Regions from separate parts of the Homo sapiens genome. Here region 1 is linked to region 2. The links come from fine-mapping of genetic effects on gene expression. Tissue or cell type: stomach. Region 2 holds a variant in brackets; the other region holds the start of a gene. All regions are shown on one strand. Distances are between the middles of the regions.

The links. PIP is the estimated chance that this variant, and not a neighbour inherited with it, causes the effect.
Region 1: it holds the start of IBA57, and the variant in region 2 is fine-mapped to the expression of IBA57 in stomach (GTEx, PIP 0.99).

What each region holds. Positions count from the first base shown.
Region 1 is chr1:228,162,374-228,170,476 of GRCh38, forward strand. IBA57 (iron-sulfur cluster assembly factor IBA57) reads left to right here and starts at 3,431. Exons shown (of 3, transcript NM_001010867.4): 1 at 3,431-3,784. The coding sequence starts at 3,444. IBA57-DT (IBA57 divergent transcript) reads right to left here and starts at 3,139. Exons shown (of 2, transcript NR_103540.1): 1 at 3,101-3,139; 2 at 1,713-2,119. LOC124904534 (a long non-coding RNA gene) reads left to right here. Exons shown (of 2, transcript XR_007066913.1): 1 at 1-1,080; 2 at 1,777-2,809. RefSeq lists an enhancer at 3,016-3,918 and a silencer at 3,023-4,062.
Region 2 is chr1:228,982,940-228,991,042 of GRCh38, forward strand. No RefSeq gene overlaps it. Among named protein-coding and RNA genes, the nearest start is that of LINC02815, 170 kb to the right of the region's middle. RefSeq lists an enhancer at 6,620-7,370. The variant T/C (reference allele first, on the strand shown) is at 4,699.

The DNA.
Region 1 (8,103 bases), 820 kb before region 2:
TCTGAGGCAGGTTGGCAGGGGGGCCAGTCGCTGGTGGGCCCAGCCCTGTACACAGCAGGACACACCCAGAGCAGGCGGTGCTGGAGCAGGCTGGCGGGATGGGACTCCATGTCTCACCTCCATCCGTTTCCACAACCTCAGCCAAAACTCTCGGCTGCTCATGGGAGTGCATAGTGGGGTGAGGGGCCAGCTGCTCAGAGACTCCCTCAGAATAGGGCAGTGGCACTCTCCTTCCTCTAGGAAGGGAGGAAGCCCTGAGGCGAGAATAACAGGAAACCACCTTCCCCCAACCCCCCCACAGTACCTGGGAAGCAGGGGCTGCGACCCCTACGCCCAGGCATTTTCCAGTTCTCACTCCCCTGGCCCCTGCTTCAGCCTGGTCCCTGAAGCCAGGACAGGGGCGGGGTTTCCTCCCCCAGGTGCCAGGCCCCAGTCCCCTGCCTGCTGATAAGGAGAACAGCAGCCAGGGTGGCTGGTGTAGAGTCCAGGAAGGCTTCTTGGAGGTGGCCTGGAGTTACGGCCTCACATGGCTCAGGCACTGGAATGTGGCCCCCAGGACTCTGGAGCTGAAAGCTCTGTTTCCTTTGAGTCCATTCGAACTGAAGTGGCCCCTGGTGTTGGTGGTGGCTTCTTTGGGGTGGGGGGGCCTAGGCAGGACAGATTCGGAGCCAGTGGGCCCGGCCCGGGGCACCAGGTTGCCGCACGCCTTTCCTGCTGCCTGTGCAGGGGTGGAAGCAAATTCCTCCTCTGGCTGAGGACCAGGCTGACGTGAGCCCAGAGGAACTCGACCCCCGCCCGTGGGTGTTGTCTGCGCCACTCCCTGCCCCGGGTTTCATCCTGCCTGCCTTCCGCTCTGTCCGCATGGGGCTGCCCGGGGGGTACCGGGTCACCCTCAGGAACGCCAGGCTCTGGCAGAGGAAGGGGTGGCGGCTGCAGCCAGTGGCTAGGGAGCGCATTCTAGGCCTGGCCTATCTCAGTCAGGAAGCTGGCGTCTGGCGGGGGACTGAGGCCCAGGGACCTTGGGGGACCCAGCTGATTTGCTCCAGGCTCCTCACCATGCCCGGAGCCTCGCCTGGTTGGGTAGGCAGGGTCCGGGGCCTCACAGGGCTTGGGGCAGGTGGGGATGCTGTGAGGAGGGTCCAGAAGGGCAAGCGGGAGCTCCAGGGATGAGGAAGCTGCAGTGAAGAGAGTGGGCTAACGGCAGGGCCTCCATGGCCACATCCAGGGCCTGCGGGAATTCGCTGACTGCCCAATGTCACCTGAGCCCCTAAGGCATGCCGGCTGCTGGCCCAGGCCCTCAGGACACGGCAGGGAGCTATGGCAGAGACTTTCTGCTTGGCCAAACTCCGGCTGGGATCTGGAACTTTCTCCTAGGCCCATCTGTGCACTTGCTTGGAAAATCCAGTTTTAGTAAGAGCCCTACTGAGTCAGTTTAGCCAGAACCCCACACCCTGGATATCTCACCCTCGATGACATCCAACCAGGTCCCTCATCCTCCACCATCACCTGGTGACGTCTGATCACCCTGCCTGCCTAGAGCAAGGACCCTGTGAGGTGGGTTTAGCCAGACCCCTCAGCCCTGATGTCTCCTTAGTCATTCCCACCCACAGACCCCACGCTGCTCCTCGGCTTCTCCACCCTCTGCCCTGCTGTGTTGGGGTTGAGCTCCATCTCCCCCAAGGCCGCCAGGCAGGGCCCCACACCACATGATGCGCCTTGGTGCAGTCTTCCTCACTGATGTTACTACGCATCATGAGGAATTTTTTTATTCAACAGATACAAAGACCTCTGCTTGCTGGGACTCTGCACCATAAGGACACATTGAGTAAGTCTTCTTTGGTGCTTTGAGTGGAGGGCAGTGGAGAGGGGAATGTCAACAGGGTGCATGGGCCCCAGGAGGCCAGCAAGGCAGGGATGGCTTGGACCAGGGCAGTCAGACTCTAGGGCTGAAGGCTGCTGGGGCCACCTTGTAGATGTGTCACCTACTACCAGGGAAAGTGGCCACTGTACAGGGCTGCTCAGCAGGGGGTATGGGACATCACTCCTCGAGAAAGCACGGTGGGGTGGATATGTCATAGCAGTGTGTGGTTCCTGCCTAAATTGTCCTCTGTGAGTTCAGCTGTGAAGAGAGGACGAGAGTTATTGGAAGGACGTCCTGTGGTCTGGAAGGACGTCCTGTGGGAGGACAGGCTGGGCTCCAGGGGAGCTTGGAATCCTGCACTGAAGAGGACTATAGACACATGATGGGGGTGACCCTGGCCTGAAAAAAGCAGAAGTTACCAAGGATGTGATTTGAAGCTGTGATTGTGTCTCATCATGTCACACTGATTAGGGGTGCGGAGGGGTTGTGGGCTGGATGGTGCCTGTCCTTATCCGTGGAGACACTTGGGGATGGAGCCTCCTGCCACCTGCAGCTGAAGTCCCAATGGTCCAGCAAATGAAAAAAATGACACAACAGCCACACGTGGACGCTGGCGAACTGGTAGGAAAGAGGAAGCGGCCGGGTGCGGTAGCTCACGCCTGTAATCCCAGCACTTTGGGAGGCCAAAGCCGGTGAATCGCTTGAGCCTAGGAGTTTGAGACCAGCCTGGACAACATGGGGAGACCATTTCTACAAAAAAAATACAAAAATTAGCTGGTGTGGTGGCTAGCGCCTGTAGTTCCAGCTACTCAAGAGGCTGAGGAGGGAGGACTGCCTGAGCTCTGGAGCTTGAGGCCAGCCTGGGCAACATAACCAAGACCCTGTCTTTACAAAAAATAAAAATAAAAATAAAAATAAAAATAAAATGCTGATACATGCTAGACCGTGGATGGACTTTGAGAATACTATGCTGAGTGAAATAAGCCGTCGCAAACGACAAATCCCGTAGGATTCTGCTCCTGTGAGGTCCCTAGAGGAGGCACGCTCATGGAGCCAGAAGGTACAATGGGAGCTCCAGGGCCTCGGGAGTGGGTGTTTAACAGGGAGTTTCAGGTTGGGAGGATGAAGAGGTTCTCGAGATGAGTGACGGTGCCCGACATGGGTGGGTGAAAACGAGGAAGGCCACCGAATGGGACATGGGATGGCGCTTAAGAGGCCGGCAGAAACCTCGTTACCTACCGAGGGTGGAGCCTGCGTGCTGACGGATAGGCCGAGTCCCCGCCCCGAAACACACCCCGCGCACGATGCTCCGCCCCACACGCATGCCCCACCCACCCAGCAGGCACGCTCGCCCCGCCCGCCCCTTCCAGCTCGGGAGGCCCTGCTCCTCACGCACGCACTCTCAGTCGGCCTCAACCGGCGCTGCTCCGCCCCTCAGGCACGCACGTTCCGTTCACCCCTCACGCACGCACTCTGCGCCCGCCCCTTCCCGCCTCCCTCCGGCGGCCACCGCCAGGGGCCGCTGTGGCACCCGCCCCTCCCGCTTCCTTGGGCCCTTCCCGCTGCCCCACTCTTGTCCAAGATGGCGACCGCGGCGCTGCTTCGAGGCGCCACTCCGGGGCGCGGCGGCCCGGTCTGGCGCTGGCGGCTGCGCGCGGCCCCAAGGTGCCGCCTGGCCCACAGCTCCTGCAGTCCTGGTGGCGACCCAACGGCCGGAGCGGCCTGGGCCTGCTTCCGGCTGGACGGGCGCACCCTGCTGCGCGTGCGTGGCCCCGACGCGGCGCCCTTCCTGCTAGGGCTGCTGACCAATGAACTGCCGCTTCCGAGTCCTGCGGCCGCGGGGGCCCCGCCTGCTGCGCGCGCGGGCTACGCCCACTTCCTGAACGTGCAGGGCCGGACGCTCTATGACGTCATCTTGTACGGGTGAGCGCGTGCTGGGAGGGCGCTCGGGGGCGGGCACCCAGGGGAGTGGCCAGGGACCGGCACCCAGGGACAGGGCGGGCGCCCGGGGCCTGCAGAGGGCGTGGGGGGTGGGCACCCGGGGAGGGCCGGGATGGGGTGGAAGCTCAAGGGTGGGTGGGCCAGCGACTGGCACTCAGGGTCAGGCACCCAGGAGATTCCACTTGGGATGGACACCCAGGGGAAGCTCACCCAGGGCCCAGCACCCGGGGGAGGGCACCCAGAGGAGGGCTTGGCTCAACACCCAGGGATGGGTCAGCGACTCATCCAGGGGAGGCCTGGGGGCCAGCCCACCATATCAGAGCAGAGGCGTCTCTAGGTGGGCACCTCCCAAGTGGGCCATCTGGTGACCCTTCTCCCTCCGCAGGGACAAGGGGTTCAGGGGCCCCGCCTGGTGGCAGAGCTGTGTTTCTGAGTGACAGCTTGTGGTGACACTCCCGAGTTCTGTTTACCTTGTGTTTCCCTGTGTCTCCCCATAGCTGGTCACATTGGCATTTGGCTCAGTCATCTGTGCTGACATCACGACTGTCAGTGATGTTCATGCCGGGTCAGGGCCTTGACTGCTTACAGCCTTGGGTTTCCCTTGCCCAGCTTCCAGGGACCTGGATCCCTGAAACCTCCGCCCGGTGGAGTGGATCTGGTTCGCGGCCGCCTGCCTGCTGTCCCTGCTATGGCGGACCCGGTTCTTGTTCTCTTCAGCTTACTCCTGTGTTTTGGTTTCAGGGGATGGACACCTTTTTAATGACTTCCTGAGCTACGTGGGGTGAATTTTTGGACTCATTGTGTCTCTGCTAGTGGCTTTACCTGATATCCTGGCTGGGTGTAAAAATCTAGCTTGGAAATTGTCACCGACAATGTTCACATCACAACTTTGTTTTCTCGCTGCCAGCTTTTCTGAGAAGTCTGGTGCCGTTCTTATTTGTATGTGAACTGTGTTTTTCTCAGAAGCTTTTCTTTATTCTTGATGTCGTGAAATGTCATGCTGATGTGTCTTAGTTTGGGCTTTTTCCATATCACATCTCTGGGCACTTAGTGGGCTCTTTAAATCTAGAACCAGAGTTGGTGAAATACGGCCCTGAGGTCAGACCCAGCCCATTGCCGGTGTTTATAATAAAATTCTCTGGGAACCCCACCCGTTGGATTCCAGGTGGTCTGGGGCTTCTTTTTTTTTTTTTTTTTTGAGACGGAGTTTTGCTCTTGTTGCCCAGGCTGGAGTGCAATGGCACAATCTTGGCTCATTGCAACCTCTGCCTCCAGGGTTCAAGAGATTCTCCCGCCTCAGCCTCCCAAATAGCTGGGACTACAGGTGCCTGCCACCATGCCCGGCTAATTTTTGTATTTTTAGTAGAGACAGGGTTTCACCATATTGGCCAGGCTGTTTTCACACTCCTGACCTCAGGTGATCCACCCGCCTCGGCCTCCCAAAGTGCAGGGATTACAGGTGTGAGCCACTGTGCCCGGCCTGGGGCTGCTTTTGTCTGGAGTGGTAGAGTTGTGGCACGAGTGTGGCCCTCAAGCCTAAGTTATTCACTGGCCCTTTACAGAAAAAGTGTGCCCACCCTAGCTCAATAGGCTTAAATCTTCATGTCCCAGTTCAGAGATATAGTCATCATAGTCTGTCTTATGTATTCATTACATTCTGTCTAGCTGCTTTAATTTCTTCATCTTAAGAACTACATTCTTTGATTCTCTGGAGCCTTCTATGTTAGTACTTTGCTGTTCACATGTTAGCCTTACAATGATGTTGATTTTGGTCCCCAAATTCCCTTCCATATTTCTATAGTCCTCTCTTGTCCTTTTCCCTTTGAGTCCTAGTTCAATTGAATTCCTATTCTTAATAAGTGTTTTGTGGTGTAAAGTACAGCTGACTTTGCACTACATAGGTCACTTATGCGTGGATTTTCCTTCACCTCTGCCACCCTGAGACGGCAAGACCAACCCTTCTTCTCCTTCCTCCTCCTCAGCCTACTCAACATGGAGACCATGAGGATGAAGATGTTTATGTTGATCCATTTCCATTCAGTGAAGTGGAACTACATTTCCTCTTCCTTAGGATTTTCTTCCTGGGATTTGTAGCTTACCGTATTGTAATACAGTATATAATAGCATAAAACATAAAAAATATGTGCCACTTGACTGCGTATGTTATGCATAAGGCTTCCAGTCAACAGGAGTCTGTTAGTAGTTAAGCTTTTGGGGAGTCAAAGCTTAAAGGTGGGTTTTCAACTGTGTGGGGGCCAGTGTCCCTAGCCCTTGCATCATTCAAGGGTCAGCTGTCTGTCCTTTCTGTGTCTCAGGGCTTTTTCCTCTTCATCCTTTCTTGCCTGGTCTGGAGCTTGTCTGCAGACCTACTGGGCCCCAGCTCCCCTTACCAAGCATATGCTTGGTGGCTCCTCTGTGTCTTTCTATTTGCTCTCATTGTGGGGGTCTCTGTCCTCGAGGTCTGCAGGAGGAGTTAATTTTCTTCACTTGTGCTGGGTGTCTGGTGTGTCCGCCACTGTTCTGAGTGCTGAGGGCATTGGAGGCGGCTCTGTTCTTCCCCAGCTCAGCACTGAAGGGTGACGTCATCCAACTCTGGTCTCCCTTCTGAGATGTGACACAACGTCACAGGCCAGGGAGCTCCACTCTGAGGGGTCAGGTGGGGCGGGACCATCCTCCGTGGGATTCAGCATCTGTGTAATAATACTTGAAACCCTCTAGCTTCAGTTCTGTTGGAGTTCATGGCCCTGTTTCTCCTCAGCCGTCAGAAGAGGGACACAACAAGGTTACCTCCTTGAGTGTCTCCCCAGGGGTGGTGGGTGACAGGTGTCCAGATGCCACCCCTCCCAGCTATGTGGCATGGGTGGGCTTAGGGCTGCGCTCGTTGGGCACGTTTAGTTCAGTTCATGAGAGTGTAAACTCTTTTCCTTGTCGGGCTGCTGTTGGCTGTTGACCTCCCTCTCTGTGGTTTGCCCCCTCTGGTCACTCCTCTGGGGAGAGGGCAGCCTGCAGGTCAGGGACCACCTCTCCCTGGAAGCCTCTGTGTGTTCCTGCTTCTCTGGTCATTCCCTGCCCATCATTCCTTTATGGTTTTTTCCTGACTGTAGGATTTTTTATTTCAACTTTGATACTTAATATATCATCCTGAGCCATCGCTTCCTTAAAGCACCCTATTCTTGTTTCCTGAATGTAGCACCTTCTTTCAGATGAAACTATAGTTATTTGGTTGTTGTCTTTTAATAGGAGTTGCTTTTTAGAGCAGTTTTAGGTTCTCAGCAAAAGAGCAGAATGTGCAGAGATTTCCCATATTACCTCACAACTTCCCCCACCAGAGTGCTATTTTCGTCACAACTGATGAACCTCTGTTGACATGCCATCATCACTTGGAGTACAGTTTCCATGAGGGCTCACTCTTGGCTTGGTGTGTTCATGAGTTAGGCAAATGTATGATGACACATGTCTACCATCGTAGCATCACATACAGTAGTGTCACTGCCTTGAAATCCTCTGTGCCCTGCCCATCCATCCATCTCCCCTAACTCCTGGCCACCACTGATGTTTTCAGTGTCTCCATAGTTTCATGCTTTCCAGAATGTCCTGTAGTTGGACTCATGCATCTGTAGCCTCTTCACATTGGCGTTCTTCACTTAGTGATATGCGTTTAGATTCCTCCATGTTTTTTCATAGCTTGACAGCTAATTTCTTTTTTTTTTAGACAGAGTCTTGCTCTGTCCCCCAGGCTGTAGTGCAATGGCGCAATCTCGGCTCACTGCAACCTCTGCCTCCCAGGTTCAAGCGATTCTCCTGCCTCAGCCTCCTGAGTAGCTGGGATTACAGGCATGCACCACCACGCCCAGCTAATTTTTGTATCTTTTTTTAGTAGAGACGGGGTTTCACCATGTTGGTCAGGCTGGTCTCGAACTACTGACCTCATGATCCGCCCGCCTCGGCCTCCCAAAGTGCTGGGATTACAGGCGTGAGCCACGGCGCCCGGCCGACAGCTAATTTCTTTTAGTACTGGTTAGTATTCCATTGGATGGACCACAGTTTATTTGTCCACTCATCTACTGAGGGACATATTGGTTGCTTCCAAGTTTTGGCAATTATGGATAAAGCTGCTGTAAACATCCATGTGCAGATTTTCATATGGGTCTGAGTTTTTTTGTTTTTATTTTTTAGACACAGGGTCTCGCTCCATTGCCCAGGCTGGAGTGCAGTGGCACAGTTGTAGCTCACTGTACCTTCAAACTCCTGGGCTCAAGTGATCCTCCCACCTCAGCCTCCCAAGTAGCCAGGACTACAGG
Region 2 (8,103 bases):
GTTGTACATTGCATTGTACATCATACTGTATACTGTGTGTTATATGAGGAGCACATTAATTTGGAAGTACTTTATCTGCTCAATTGCACCAGCATTCCATAATAATCATGCAGGATTGACTTTATTATTGCTGTTGTTATTAAAGAGGGCCTGAGGAAGAACTCCCGCACAAGCCACCTTGCCTGCCTAAACCATCTGAATAAATCTGCGTCTTGGTGGACGGGGCTTTGGGGTGAGGTCCTGTGAGTGATGAGGCCCTCTCTGCCCTGGGATGGTGAAGTCCCATCTGCCATGGGGTCAGGATCGGGTGGGATCTGAGTGCACCCCGAAGCTGCTCCGTCCCTGGGAAAGGGGCTTTGCTTGCTCTGCCGGGGGAGGGAGCACAGACAGAGCAGCCTCCATGGTAGGGGCCAGGTCCTCACTCCTGGATGGGGGCAAACCAGCTCTTCTCTGGGGGGGCTAGGCAGGGAGGAACAGGCGAGCACCTGGAGAAGGCAGCCAGGTGACACCCCCCAGGATGACCCATCTGCCCCTGGAGTGTACATCATCCTGCCTGTCTCCTGATGGATTTCCTGCCTTCTGGGGCCCACCTCCAACCCCAGGCTGTGTTTCCTTCCTCTGAACTCAGGAAGCACTGAAAGTCTCCAAACCATTCCGCTGGCACTGCTCATACTGAATATTCTTAAATTACAAAAGTAAAAAATAAAAAAAAAGTCTAAGACCTGAATTATCAACCTGACCGTCAGCTCCTTTAGGGCAAGGCAATGACTTTTATATGTCTCTTTATTCAGATGTGTCCCCCCAGCAGAAGACAGCTCCTCACATGCTCTCCTTTTGATTGTTAAATTCATAACTGTGCACAGGGTGGATTGCAGCAGTGAGTTCAAGGCAGAACAACAAACAATAATGGCACGTGTATTCCAGGCAAGAGGGAAGCACAAGGCCGAGCATGGTGCCAGCTTGCCTTTAACAGGTACAGTGCTGCGGGGAGGCAGCTAGTGCTGGGACCCAGTAGGGATAATGGGATAACAAAGGTGCTCCTGCATTGTCAGATGCACAGAGAGACATAGCCATCAGTGGTATGCTTTCTCTCCCACTTATTTACCTCCTTTCTGATTTCCCAAAGCTATTTTTGTTTTATTCCCAAACATGACACTTTTCTCCCTTTCTTATTTAGTTAATGAAAACAGAAACAATAACTTAATTATGTGATAGACAGTAAAGAGAATACTAAAGAAGTAGATATTTGACACAAGCTTTGAAAATTAAGTTGAAAAGAAAGAGTACTGCTGTTAATAATCAGCAGCTGTCAGTGAGAGCTATCACTTGAACAACTATCACAAAATCTCCACTCCTCAAAACAGCCCTGCAGTGTAGACATTATCCCCATTTTAGAGGCGAGGGAGTGCCAGCTCAGGGAAGCTACCCTCACAGGCTGGTAGATGTCCACACTTGAATCAAGGGTGAACCAGACCCCCATATGCCCACAAGCACACACAAGCTGATGTGGACTCTGGGAATGAATGAAATTCATTGTAAAATTAGCATATGCAAAAAATTAGCAGCAAAATGCTGCTGCTGCTGCTGCAAAAAAAAATGCATATAATGTAATATACTTTCAATCCAAACATCTTCTGTTTTAATGATCTGTTTTAGCCATGGTTTCACCTTGGAGGGATCTGCTCCATTCATAAAGCAGAGAATTGGGCTGCTGCAGAAGCAGGGAAGCAGGGTTGAACTGGTGGGAGGCAGTGGTGGGGTGGAGGCCTGGTTCCTTGCGTTAGTACACCTGCCACTCCAGATTCCTTAGGACAAGTAAGCCCAGCCTCTGTAAGGTCCCACCGGCCTCCAAGATCCAGGAGCACTGAGGAGGTGCCAGGGGGCAAAAAGGCATCAAGGGACTCAAGGCAAAGAGAGGCTTGGCAATTGTGACGGGTCAGGGTGGGGCAGGCTCCCCTGGTGGCTACAGGCTCCTCATGCTCCACGGAGGGGCAGGAGGACAAGCTGACTCAGGCCAAATGAAGAGGAAGAAAGGAGGAAATGTGGCCACCTATGGATCCTGCCAAGAGATGTGATGGACTTCTCTTCATGAGCCCAGAGAAACTTGGGTTCCAGCATATGCTCCGGTGAGGACCCAGCACTCAGCATATAGTGCCACTGATGTCAGTCTGGCATCATGCGCCAGGGCCTGCACCAGCTGCTGGGCACACAGTGGTATATGACAGAGTCCCTGCTCTCCTAGAGCATGGGGTCCAGTTGGGGAGACAGACACACAACCAATCATGATTTGCTGTCTGCTAAGATACCGCCATGCACAGGGGGCTACATACAGGTGTTCAGAGAAGGAATCCCAAACCAGAGGATTGGAGGAGAATAGATGCCTCATGAATCTCAAAAGACTGGCAGAGGCTAACCAAGCAAAGAGAGTGGAAAGAGCACTGAGGCATGGGGATGGCAGGTGTGGGCAAAGGTGCAGCACATGTGAGGAGGAGTGTCTCAGTCTGCTCTGGCTGTGTAACAAAGCACTGCAGACTGGGGGGTGGTAAACCATAGAGATGTACCATCTTACAGTTCTAGAGGTTGGAAGTCCAAAATCAAGGTGTTGGCAGGCTTGGTTCCTCCTGAGGCCTCTCTCCTTGGCTTGTAGGGAGACAGCACTCTGCCATCTTGCTGAGTCCTCACATGGTCTTCCCTCTGTGCATGTCCGTGTCCTCATCTCCTCTTCTTATAAGGACACTGGTCATATTAGTCTAGGGCCCACCCTCATTACCTCATTTTAACTGAATTTCCTTAAAGACTCTGTCTCCAAGTACAGTCCAATTATGAGGTATGTGGGGTTAGGACTCCAGCCTATAAATTACTGGGGGACATAATATGGCTCATAAGAGTGGGGAAGTGCAGGAGGCTGGTGCACCCAGCGGGAGCTGAGTCTGGAGGCACAAGTCCCGCCAGACCCAGAGCCTGGAGAGACATGCAGAAGGCTCCCACTTTGCCCTGTGGAGGGCAGGGATCTTGGGGGTCACAGCTTGAGACTCAGCTCTTGCACTTGGCAGCTGTTTGAACTTGGGCATGCTGCTTTACCTTGGAGTCATAGTTCCCCCTTTGGGAAAATCAGGATAAAACTATCTTGTGGGATATGTTGTGAAAATTAAAAGAAAATGTTTCTAAAGCAATGTCACGGGATCTGTCAGGCAGTAGGCATATCGGATGGGAAATGTGATGAGGAGAAGCATGAACATGGTGCGGGAGCTCGGAGGAGGCTTTACCAGGCCCGGCAGCCAGGTGGCCGTTGTGCCCTAGGACAGGCGGCACATGGGCGCGTGGGGAGACCCCAGAGGGCTCTTAGGACTGTCTGTGCATCAGGCAGTGCCATCACAGTGTGATCTGTGGATCACCCGCTTGAGCATCGCCCTATGAAAGCGCAGATCGCAGGCCCAGCTCAGCCATCCTGAGTCCGGATGGAACCTGTGTCTAAACTGCTTCCTAGGAGCTCAGTCTGAGAATCATCCTGGAGACCTGCAAATCTGAGGGGTGGAAAGAGGAAGAGGAACAGAAACAGAGCGAATGCAGATCTTATTGTTCGTGCTTCTTACCCAAGGCCTGGGGTAAGCCTTTTCCCAAAAGAGTGGAATGGGGAGGCCCATCTCACTGCACTGCCCGCTCCTGTGACACTGAGAGCGCAGTGGGCAGAGACCCCCAAGAGTCCTGCAGGGCAGACAGGCAGACGTCTGCTCTGTTACTAAGCCATGCTGTGCACCTCCAGCCAGCAAAGTTGAGCTTTTGCCCAGAGTTGGCAGCTCCCCAAGAATCAGACTTGTGGAGAACATGGTAAACGCTGGTCTGCTTATTTTGGGATTGAGGGATTGTGAGGGATCGTGCTTATGTCTCCTTCCAGAAGTTTAATGAACAAAATATTACCATTAGTCAAGCCTACGTGACCACCAGCTGACCAGGACACCTGCAGTTCTTTAATTAAGCTCTAGAGATGAGACATCCCCTACCCTGTGTCCCCTACGGAGTAGTGACCAGACGAGTTAATTTGCCTTGAGTCGTTAACCTGAGAGGACCATTAGCTCTCTGGGAAATGATTTTAATGTGAACCTACTACCTTTTGCTAAGAAAAGGAAGGCTCTGTCCCTTTCACACCCAGCTCAAGAGGAACAGCCAGTCTTAAGTCAAATGCCCATTTCTCTAGTGTGAAGAGTAAAGATGACAGATGTTCACAGGCAACCTCAGTTAGTTCCTTCCCTTGTCGAAAAATGCTGGACTCTCTCACTCCCCCCCCACCCCCCCCCACACGCATACACACACACAGGCGCAGGCACATGTGCACACACACACACACACGAACACAGACATATCATTCGTGTGCGTGCGCACACACACACTCGTATCTTCCGGAGGCCAGCTTTGACACACATCACCTTCTCATAGTAGATGAATTATTGGGTCTATTGCTGCATTCATATCCTCCCTAATTAAATTCTGCTAGCCTGGAATTGTGATCCTTTGGTTTATCAGGAAGCTACGCTCTGCTGTTATTTGCCCTTATGTTACATACAAAGAGAGTGTTAAAAGCTACTTCATGATATACACATCTGACAGGGGGCCAATTAAACACACTGGACCAGGCTGCCTGTTTTGTGCCATTGATGCTGGCTGCAAATTACAAATGAATTTATGCTTTTCATTTCATGC[T/C]CAGCATGGTGCTTTCTCAGCAATGTTTCATAAGCATAAGGCCAGGTGCTTTTGTGTGAAAGGAACAAAATGAAATTTCTTTAAAAATGCAAATCCTAATCCAGACTGCCCACCCCTACCCTGGCTTATCCTGACTGGTGGGTATTTACTGTCTCCTGTTCCTGGGGGGTGCTACCTGGCTCTGAAGAGGCCTTTCCAGGGCAGTCTTGAGCAGGGTCAGGGAGGGGTGCTGTGGAGGGGCAACCTCCAGCCGTCCCGTGTGGCCAAGAGCTTTCAGAGACAGGGTGCCCCTGCCACCAGACAGTGAGGAGTTGCAAAAGAGGCAGCTATGGGGGTCTCTGTGCAGCACTCAGCGGGAGGATCCCCAACTCTGTGGCCACGCATGACTGTTGGAGGGTGGGACATCAGCTGAGACTTCCTTACTCAAGCAGAACAGAAATATTTTCATAATATGGACTCATTTAAGGTAAAAAATGTGCCAGGCCTTATAAAAATATAAAGATGAATCTAGTTTCTGACCTTCAGCAGAGAGACACACAGATACACCAAACGGGCAGAGGACACAGCAGGAGCTGCAGGCTGCCTGTGCTGGCATTGTGGAGGGACCTCCCCCGCACCCCGGTAAACGCGGAGAGCAGGGTACTCTCTAGGGCAGGAGCCAGCAAGCTTTTCCTGCAAAGAGCCAGGTGGTCTACATTTCAGGCTGTTGCAGGCCTCGGGGTCTTTGTCGCAACAAGTCAACTCTAACGTGATAGAGTTAGAAGGCATCTATAGGATGAGCATGGCTGTGTTCCAATACAATTTTATTTACAAAACAGGTGGTGGGCTGTGGGCGGCCGACTCCTGAGCTAGAGGGTTGGATCATTGCACATGGTTGCAGTCCATTTTCAAGATATTTTAAAGGTAAATTGTTATTTCTAGCTCTCTGTCTCTTCTGATACTATTAATCTACTAGAATAATTTTTTACAATGATTTTTTAATTATGAAAGACATACATGATCACTATATAATTATCAGAAAATAGAGGTAAACAAAAAGAAAACAGTCACATTTCTGAGCTAGTCTTCATCTTGCCTCTTCCTTTTCTCTACTCGCAAACATCCCTCATGGTCCCACCCACATGCAGGGAGGCTCAGCTGGCAGGAGAGGAGGGAGGGCCTGGTGACCTCGGCTGGCCCCTCATGTGCTGCTGGTCCATAGTGAGGGTGGAGCCTCACCAGTGTGGCCACAGGCATGCTCACAGGGAGCTGTCGAGTTTCTGCTGAAGTCCGAAGTGACCCACTTCAACCCGCCATGGTCTCTGTGAACCCTGGGATGGAGTCATTACTCTCCACATGGTTGGAATTCCTACTGGGGTGACTTATGAAAGTGGAACAGGCCCAGCTCCATTCAGTCAACACGTGTTAAGCACTGATGGGTGCCAGGCATTGTTCTAGGCACTGTGGCCAACAAGACAACCTAGAAGCTTTCATTCTTGTAGGGGAGGTTAATTATAAACAAATCAACAACAAAAACTATAAAAATGGTTATCTAAATGTTGGATGGTAATGGTTGCAAATAGTAGAATGGGAAGTATTTGGCAGCACGGATGAGATGGAGTGATGCCCTCCCATTGGGTGGTAAGGGACTCCTCCGAGGAAGGGAGGAGGACAGGCGGGTCTTGAAAACACGGAGGGCAGAGCATTCTAGGCAGACAAAGAGTACATGCAAAAGTCCTTCAGCAGCACCGTGTTCATGCCCTTGAGGACAGACAGCAGTCCCACAGGCTGGATCAAACGGACTCACGGCAAAAATGAAAGAAGTTAGGTAGGAAGTCAGGGCCTTTAGACTGTGGCGAGGAGCTGAGATTTTATTCAAGAGCCATGGGAAGCCAGCCGAGGATTTTAGGCAGGAAAGCTGCATAACCTGACTCCCATTTGTGAAAGCTTGCTCCTGCTGTTTTTGGAGAACAGACTGCAGGGACGAAAGGGAAAATGAGGAGACTCTTTGGCGGCTGCAGGAGGAGGTGCTGATAGCATGGACGCCACTGTTCTGATGTCCCCAGAGATGGGGAGCTGGTAGGCTTTTCTCTCAGCTCTGGTAGGGGGTGGTGCCATTCACTGAAATGGAAAGATGGAGGAGGTTAGGGTGGGCTGGCGCAGAAAACAAGCGTGGGTTATGGACAGGACAAGCCGGAGGTGCCTGTTAGCACCAAGAAGAGTCAGGAGCTCTAGCAAGAGGACTTTTTAACCAGTCTCAACTGAACACCTGCAGTGTGCCAGGCCCAAGCTGGCCCCATCTGCGGTGACTGCCCATGCCCTCTCATCCTCCTGTCCATGTGCAGCCTGACCCTAGCACCACCCGCTGGCCTGGGATTATCAGGCTGAGCCTGCCGCCATGAAGTCCTCCAGCCTCACCTGACCAGCCCCAGGCAGGATGTGGCGCATTCACGGGTAAACAAGTGAGGGAGGGACACTGGAGCACCCCACAGAGCATCTGGGGCCCTGCAAGGCCATCGCAGGCCCAGCTGTCTCTCTGGAAAAATGCCATGGACACTCTTGATCAGTCAGATGTTGGCAGTGACACTGCTGTCTTGCTTCATTGCATTTGCAAAATAAGCAAAGTTTGTAGTGCTCCCTGTCTTCTACGTGTGAGCGGGTGTGTTTCTCATCAACTCACTGCAGTTACAAAACCAATTAGAGCTGTAAAATGTGGAATGGCCTCTGTGTGAACAGCCTGGGACATCCTCAGAGCTCCAGAGCCCACTGCTTTGATGTCAGAGCTGGGGGTGGGGTGGGGTGGAGTGGAAAGGCCATGGGAAGGGAGCCGGCTCTGAAACACGTGGAGGCCAAGGTGGTAAGGTGGTAGTGATGTGGAGGCCTTGCCGATCAGGGGCCCACACACCGCACCCTGGCAGGGGAGGGCCGGGGGCTTTCTGTGCCTCACCCACAGATAAGAAGGAAGTGGGAGCCAGTGCCAGTCCCTCAGCTTCCTCCTTGCAGGCCTTCTCTGCTTGCCCTTTCTCCACATTTGGCCCAGACATTGAAGCTATGAGCCACATGGCAGGAAGTTCACAACTGCTGTGCTGACAGAAGCCAGAAAGGAGGCTGTTTTCTGGAAGCCTGCCCTGTGCAGGCCTGACAAGAGCTGGGGGAAGTTAGGAGGCCCTTGATGGGACCACGGCCATGCATGACACTGGGACCTCTTGCACTAGGAAGACATCCTGTATCATAAAATTCAAGGAACTCCGGAGCTGGCAAGGACTGTGGCAGTCATAACGTTCAATGTCTTCATTTCCTGGGTCTATGACGAAGACCCAGGAAAGTGAGGTGACTTTTCCAGAAGAGTGACAAAGGCAGAACAAGAACCAATTTCCTGACTCTCTATCCCAGAGCCCTTCACCAGTGACGGTGGGGATGCTCGCA